Homo sapiens: one gene and its partner. The protein of the gene in region 1 purifies or fractionates together with the protein of each later gene. This does not show direct contact. Each region holds a gene or a part of one and is shown on either strand. Other genes may lie near its edges.

Region 1 (3,806 bases):
TTCCTCCCTTGCTTCCTTCCATCCTCCTGTCCTGCCTCCCTCCCTCCCTCCCTCCTTCCTTCCTTCCTTCCTTCCCTCCTTCCCTCCCTCCCTCCCTCCTTCCTTCCTTCCTTCCTTCCTTCCCTCCCTCCCTCCCTCCTTCCTTCCCTCCTTCCTTCCTTCCCTCCTTCCCTCCCTCCCTCCCTCCTTCCTTCCTTCCTTCCTTCCTTCCCTCCCTCCCTCCCTCCTTCCTTCCTTCCTTCCTTACATGTGTAGCCCTCTGCTAGGGATATTAAGATGAACGAAGTTTAATCAAGAGGCTAAAAGAGGAGGCACACAAGGTAACCAATAAAATAAATAGAGTATGAGTGTAACTATGGAAACGTGCAAGACCTGGAGTTGGTACAGAGGACAGAATGATTTGCTGGGAGAGGGGGGCAGGGACAGCTCCAAGGAAGGTTTCCTCTGGGCTCTGAGCTGGGTTTGGAAGATGAACAGGTGATCTCATGTTCCCTCCCAGCTCCACCCCTCAGTAAGACTCATGAGATTTTGCTCTTGTTATAGGGGTAGATGGGACTGGGGAAGACAGCAGAGGAGGTAGTGTTCTGATTTATTTTATCAAGGGCTCTTTAAAGCCAGAAAGCCAAAAACAAGGATGCCTCAAAGTGGGAAATAGCCCTTAGCATAACAAGCCTATCCTTGAAGATTCCATAAACCAAGGCAGCAGGAGCATGGGCAGAGCTGGGGAGAAATGCATGCCTGGCACTCAGAGAAGGTCATTCATGAGGAGGGTGAGCAGCAGCACCTGATGCACGCTTTCATGTGCCCTCCTGGAGAGCTCGGCATTTTGGGCGTGGGACTGGGGTGCCGTCCACCCTGCCTGCATGTGGGTATAGGGCTCAGCTGTGCTCTCTCGGGGCTGCAGTCTAAGGTTCAGCTGACTCTTCTGATGTGGGAATGGGAAGCCATTCTGTAAAAGAAACTGAGTCTTGTTCAGACCTGGTCTCCCAGTCCTCTCCCTGAGCCCCCATGCTGTGTTTGCTCCCCAAACTAGACCCATTCACTTCTCCGTCATAGCAGAAGTCACTCTGGTGGTTACTAAGTCAGGTCTTTCAACCCAGTGTCCTACAAGTGATCCTGGGGCAGGGGCAGGGGCAGTGGCAGTGTCAGGCATGGGTCCCTTGATGGCCCAAGAGCGTGGCATCATTGTAGCAGGTGCACAGTGGGTATTGGTTGAAAGAAAGTATGAGAGTAACCAAGCATCAGTCTGACCTTAAGATACCGAGGGCGCAACCCCAGCCTTTCCAGGAGCCTCTTCTTAATGACCCAGAGAAAAAGCCTATTCCTCTCTGGGACTACTGGGACTTTGTGGACTGCCCCTTTAAAAATCAAAACAGCCATAAAGCAGGAAAGAGAAACACTAGCTGTTGCCCCAGAAGCTCGGCAGACAGAGGCAGGTAGGGGAGCAGATGCCATTTCCACAGCCCTCTACAGAGCCTCATCCACTGAGTCTCACACTCACTGGGGCGGCTCCCGGGTACCAGGCCGTGTGCTGGGCCGCGTTCTGAGGGGAGTGAGGGGACTTTCCCTGCCCCAAGTGTCAAGGGCTGCTGTGAGGTGAGCAGCACCACAGGCATGCAGGAGAGGGATGAACTCACCTGCCCAGGACAGAGCAGGTGCCACACTCAAAATCTCAAAATGGGCCTTAGAGGGTGTGTAGGAGTTCAACGGAAGAGAAAGGGCAGAGAGAACAATGCGTGAAAGGTGGGCAGGAAAAAGAGAGAGCCTCCCTGAGGCCCACAGAGGCTGTGTTGCTTATCCAAATCCACACAGCCAGTAAACAGAAGGCTTGGACTCGGACACCGCGCCACGCCCTGGAGTTCACGCTGTTTACCACTCTGCTAATAGTGCCTGAGTTACTAGGTAACCACACTGTTTTCAAGAAGAAGCAACTACTTAGTTCAAAGTGATTAAAACCCAGGAAAAAAAATACAAAAATTAGCCAGGCGTGGTGGCGCGTGCCTGTAATCCTAGCTACTCAGGAGACTGAGGCAGGAGAATCGCTTGAACCTGGGAGGCGGAGGTTGCAGTGAGCCGAGATCACGCCACTGTGCTCCAGGCTGCGCGACCGAGTGAGACTCTGTCTCAAAAAAAAAAAAAAAAAAAACCGAGGTGTGGGGGGAAGAAAGTACCAGAAGATGATGCCAAAAAGTCAGGTTAAGGCCAGACAGTAAGAGCACCGAGGCCATGCAAAAGAGTTTTTGGGCTTGGTGCCTGGGGCATGGGAGCTGGTGGGGACTTCTCAGCCGGGGGTGCCTTGGGGGATCAGCCTGTGGGCGGAACAGGAGCCAGGAGCCGGGAGCCAACTGAGGTGGGGAACCGAGGTGGACAGTGTGGCGGGGAGATGGAGACAGGTTTGAGGGCAGAGGGGAATTGGCACATGGTTGTCATTGAGAGAAGGAGGAGCCTACAGTGACCCTGTGGTGTCTGTGGGTGGGTGGGTGGGTGGGTGATGGCGCGGCGCCATGTATGAGACTGAGCAGGGAGGAGGAGCACAGATGATGAGTGTGGTTCCCATGGGTGAGCTCCTGTCCAACCCAGAGACTTTTCAGTCCAGTGTGGGGCTTGGCATGTAGCAGGTGGCCAGTAAACACAAAGTCTACTATCACCCTGTACACTTCCCATCACCCTGTGCATTTCCCGCATCCTGAGCCATGGGCTCCTCCTCACTGAGGGTGGAGAACTCCCCTCCGCAGAGGATCCTTCCTTATTGGGATTCAAGTGTTCCTGGCTCCTGCCCCATCCCTTTCCTTCCTTCATTGCAGAAGCCCTATGGTAGCGAGACAAAGAAAAACGCCTACATTTACTTTTATACCCTCTGCCTGCTTTCCTCCAGGTCTGCTGCCTTATTTCTCTCGGCCCCTCAGGCATGTGCAGCCACTCAGGTTAATGCTTCACCCCATCATGTTTCTTTCCTATGAACATAAAGTTCCTAAAATTACACAACAGGGGTGACCTGCTCCGCCCCTCCTGGCCAGCTTGCATCCTTGTCGCCTGGCTTCACCCTCTGCAGGGCTTGCTGGCTAGTCGGCCACAGGCTATGGCTTTGAAAAATGTAGTTATTGCCCAGGCGCGCTGGCTCACACCTGTAATCCCAGCACTTTGGGAGGCCGAGGCAGGTGGATCACCTGAGGTCAAGAGTTCAAGACCAGCCTGACCAACTTGATGAAACCCCCTTTCTACTAAGGATACAAAAATTAGCCAGGCGTGGTGGTGCACACCTGTAATCCCAGCTACTCAGAAGGCTAAGGTGGGAGAATTGCTTGAACCTGGGAGGTGGAGGTTGCAGTGAGCCAAGATCGCACCACTGTACTCCAGACTAGGCGACAGAGCGAGGAAAAAAAAAAAAAAGAAAAATGTAGTTATTACCCTCATGGAAAACCACGCTAGATTCTGTAAAGAGCCAAATACTGTTGAATCAACTGTATGCCAATGGTTGTTGAATAGTTCACTGGGGTCAGATCTCTCCCCACTCCATCAAGTCCCTCTTCCTGCCTCTTCTGCTGCTTTCTGCTGACTTAGGCAGTTTCCAGGCGGCTTGAGTGACAGCCATGAGCCATTAATTCAGAACCATCTTGCCGGAGGTTCTTTGACAGAAGCTTGACTTCTGGTACCAGCAGGGACAGTTTAACCATATGGAAGGGACCTCAGATATGGTCCCATCCAGTGCCCCCAGTTTACAGATGAAGAAACTGAGGCTTAGAGGGGCTGCATATCTGTCCCACAATCATGTGGTTAGTCAGGGACACAGTCAGAACTAGAACCCA
Region 2 (3,806 bases), about 25 Mb from region 1:
CCTCTGCCTCCCCTGATGCCTCTGCTGATTCCACCCACACCCATTCCCTCATCCCAGCGACTCCCCTCACCTGTGAAGGTTTGGCGACAACCCCCAGGCTGCTCCCATGGTAGATGAAGACTTTCCCATCACCATCAAAGGGGGCACCCACTGCAATATCTGCAGGGCACAGGGAAAAGGCAGTCACGCTGGCTGGGGGCCTTGCAGACAAGATCCAGGCCTCAACTCCCCCCAGTCACTCAGGTATGTTTTCTATTTTATTGAGAGGCTACAAAATCCCAGGCACTCTACATACATCATCTTTAATCCTCTTGGCCACTCCCTGCAGATATTACTAACGCAAAAAGGTTAGGAACTTGCCAAGGTCAGAAAGCTGGTAAATGGTACAGCTCAGACATAAGCTCAGGGACCCTCTCTCCCTGAGTCCTCAGAAGACCACACCCTGACCTCTGAGGGGCTTCCCCATCCCTCCTGTGGCCCCTCCCTCCCTGAGCCTTTCCAGTTCCCCGTCACACCTGGAAAGCCATCTTGGTTGAGGTCCCCCAGGACAGCCAGGCTGATCCCGAACATGGAGTCAGGGGAGCCGCAGAGCCGGAGAGGGGAGATCCCAGCCCAGTGACCCCCCTGGTTCAAGTACACATACACAGCACCCCCCAGCTCTTCTTGGCGCTCAAAGAAGTAGGGGGCACCCACTATCAGGTCTGGCCAGCTATGGAGAGAGGGAAACATTCAGTGTGGGTCCTCCCTGGCCAGAGGAGCCAGCAGGAGGCTAAGTGGCCTCAGCCAGACTGGGGCTACTAGACCCAGCCTCCCTCAGGTGGCACGGCCCTCTACCCACTCACCCATCACTGTTGAGGTCAGCCACAGCCAGTGAGTAGCCAAAGCCGGAGGTCAGGCGCTCCCCAGACAGCATAACCTCGGGCACCAGGCGACTGGCGCTGTCCTTGCGCAGGATGACCACAGCACCCTTGTGGTTGGCGCGGGGGGCTCCAGCCACAAAGCTCAGCTCTTCTGCACGCACCAGACCTTTCCCCGAGTCAATAGAGAAGCCTGGGGGAAGGGTGACTTACCCCTAAGTCTTCACCCCAAGACTCAGAAGCTGGGGTGTGTCACAGCTCCCCCAGCCCCTGCCCCCTCCCTACAGGTTAAGAGCCAAGTCACAGCTCCCCTGCACCCTGCCCCCTCCCCTAGGTTAAGAGCCAAAAGATAGGTCCCCCCAAGTCATCAGCACCACAGCTGGATAGCTCTTCCTCCCCACAGGGCCTGGCAGCCTCCCACACCCACCAGGCCCAGAGACAAGCTTGGCACAAAAAGTGCAGTGAGGTCAGCCTCAGGGACTGGGCAAGAGAGAGAAAGGTGATGGCTGAGAAGGCCAGGAGCCCAGGTAGGAGGCTGAGCACAGTGGCCTCACCCTGCCCACACCCAGGGAGCTAGAAGAGCTAGAGGTCCCTCTCAGGCCCGAATCCCACCCAGTGCACCTCTTTCCCCCAACTCCCTCATCCTGGCAGGGAGGGGAAGTCTTCACATGGATGAGGGGGAGACAAGGGGGAGTGAGAGAGCGCCTGCTTCACCCAAACATCTCCCAGGCCTGGTTTCCTCCTCCTCTGCAGAGGAATGCAGATGAGACAACGAGAGGGACTTACCAACAACATTAGCCCTTTCTTCAATATGTGCCCACCATCCATCCCCTCAGGGAAAGTCCCCCTAGAAGACAGGACTGTCCTTCCCAAAATATCCTCAGCCCTGGCCCTCTCATTCCACCTGAATCTTCCTCCATGGAGACCCCTGGCTCACAGCCCCAGAGGCCACCACCCTGGGGGCCTCCTCCTCTTAGGCCTGATCATTGGACCCAGCTCTTCTCTGCAATTTGGGCCCAATGTATGTCTCCCTGGGTGTGTGTTGGGGGAGGAGGAGATTATAAGGCACCAAAGGTCGAGTTCCCTGGGGAAGGAGGGGAGGCTGGGCCATGCCCCTAGAGTCCAGGAGGTGGGAGCTTACAAACCTAAGTAGCTATTGAGGGCCAAGTCTCCGGCTGGTCCTGGGAGCCGGTCAGCAGGGTCCAAAGTTTTATACACCAGCTGGTCGGGGTCTGAGCTATCAATGTTGGTCACAAAAAGCAACCCTGTGGGGGGTGGGGTGAGACACCAGGGAGGGGACATCCAGAGTAGGGGCCACAGAGTAGGGAGACAGAGCCACAGAAAGGCCAGAAAATGGTGGAAGAAGAAGAGGTGGAGAGAGAAAAAGAGACCAGAGAGATCACAGCCAGAGACAGAAAGACAGAGAGAGACAAGGTGAGAGACAGAAACAGAGACAGAAGGATGGGAGCATGGAGAGAGAGGACAAGAGAGAGGAGCAGAGGGTTAGAGCAGTTCTGGGCCGGGGAGAGGTCCCTACCAAAGTAGCTGTTGGCAGGGACCGGGATGAGGCGGGGGTCCTGCTCCTTCTCTCCCCCCGCCTCGTAGGGACCGTCGTCCAGGTGTGCCAGGTCCGCTGAGCCCTGTGCACAGAGCTCCACCCTGGCCGTGCCTGCAAGGACAGACCTGTTAGTGCCCAGGGCAGGGCGCAAGGAACACCCCTCAGGCCGGACACTGAGTTAGACAGGCACACGGGGAAGCCCTGCCTCTTCTTTCTAGCCCTCTCCCCACCCTGTCCCCAACCCAGGCTTCCTGGGGTCCCCCAGATGTGGCATCACACTCACCGAGTGTCAGCTCAGCCAGCAGCAGCGTGCGGAGACGGGAATGGCAGTGATGAGGTGTGGGCTAGTGTGTTGGAGCATGCAGGCCCCAGCTGCAGGCCCAGCGTGCACTTGGGGCCCATGCCAGCATGTTGAGGAACACTTGGCCGTGCGAGGGAAAGGAGGCACCCCCCATTCATGTGTGCACTAGCTCAATGGGGTGGAAGGCATGGCAGTGCCCTGGGGCCATACAGCAGTGCACATGTGGTCATGCTTGGCCATGTGCCATCCCCAACCCTGTCTCTGAGGTAAGAGGAGGTTTTGGTCCCCTTCTCCCCTTCCCGAGGAGTGACTCACCCTTCCAATTATAGGTTCCTGGGGCCCCAAAGAGGAGGTAGTGGCTATCAGGGGAGAAGGCGGCAGCTGTGCCCTGCTGGCAGAACCCAAATTGTTCATGGCCTTGGGGGCGTCCCTCACAGAACTTCCATTCCCCACCATCCAACTCATCCCGGATGGCCAGGTCCTGGCTGAGCACAAAGCAGCGACCAATCATATCCCGCGTCTCCAGGATCTGGTCCACTCGCTGCCTTGCCTCATATCGGTGTGCACAGGTCTGGGGGAGGAAGGGATGGGGATCATTTCACTCTGTGGGCCAGGGACCTGCTTGAGGCATGCTGCCCATATGCAGAGATTTGGCAGATACTGATACATGTGTGCTCACATGCACATGCACATGCACACATACACACACACCCCTATGCCGGCACCACTCAAGCACCATTACCCTGCCAGTGTTACACAGGTCCATGCATAACCCAGCAACCTGTCTGCACCCACTTCCTTGCCCTCAAATGGAGATCTCCTTGTTCCACATTCTGCCTGGAGCCAAAAGACACAATTAAGCCACCACATAGGATGTGTGTCTCCCTGATCATGTCACAGTCCTCCAAAATGCCAAGCTTGGCCCTGTCCCTGGACCTTTGTAAGTGTCACCATCTCATCTGCAAAGAACTTCCTGTCCGCTTCACTCTCCAAGTATTACTTTTTTTTTTTTTTTGAAGCAAGGTCTCACTCTGTCACCCAGGCTGGAGTGCAGTGGCACAATCATGGCTCACTGCAGCCTCGACCTCCA

Evidence for each region.
Region 2: the proteins of TSPAN11 (region 1) and ITGA7 purify together in Homo sapiens (affinity purification with mass spectrometry; 2 studies listed by BioGRID and IntAct, with this or other methods). This does not show direct contact.

The regions. Positions count from the first base shown.
Region 1 is NC_000012.12:30,957,654-30,961,459, forward strand, and holds part of TSPAN11 (tetraspanin-11), read left to right. Parts: intron 1-3,806.
Region 2 is NC_000012.12:55,697,868-55,701,673, forward strand, and holds part of ITGA7 (integrin alpha-7 isoform 2 precursor), read right to left. Parts: intron 3,554-3,806; exon of another isoform or gene 3,550-3,553; coding exon of another isoform or gene 3,512-3,549; exon of another isoform or gene 3,483-3,511; coding exon of another isoform or gene 3,459-3,482; intron 3,288-3,458; coding exon 3,032-3,287; intron 3,020-3,031; exon of another isoform or gene 2,699-3,019; intron 2,527-2,698; coding exon of another isoform or gene 2,395-2,526; exon of another isoform or gene 2,160-2,394; coding exon of another isoform or gene 2,123-2,159; coding exon 2,003-2,122; intron 1,051-2,002; coding exon 843-1,050; intron 710-842; coding exon 516-709; intron 160-515; coding exon 71-159; intron 1-70. UniProt on the Homo sapiens protein: Integrin alpha-7/beta-1 is the primary laminin receptor on skeletal myoblasts and adult myofibers.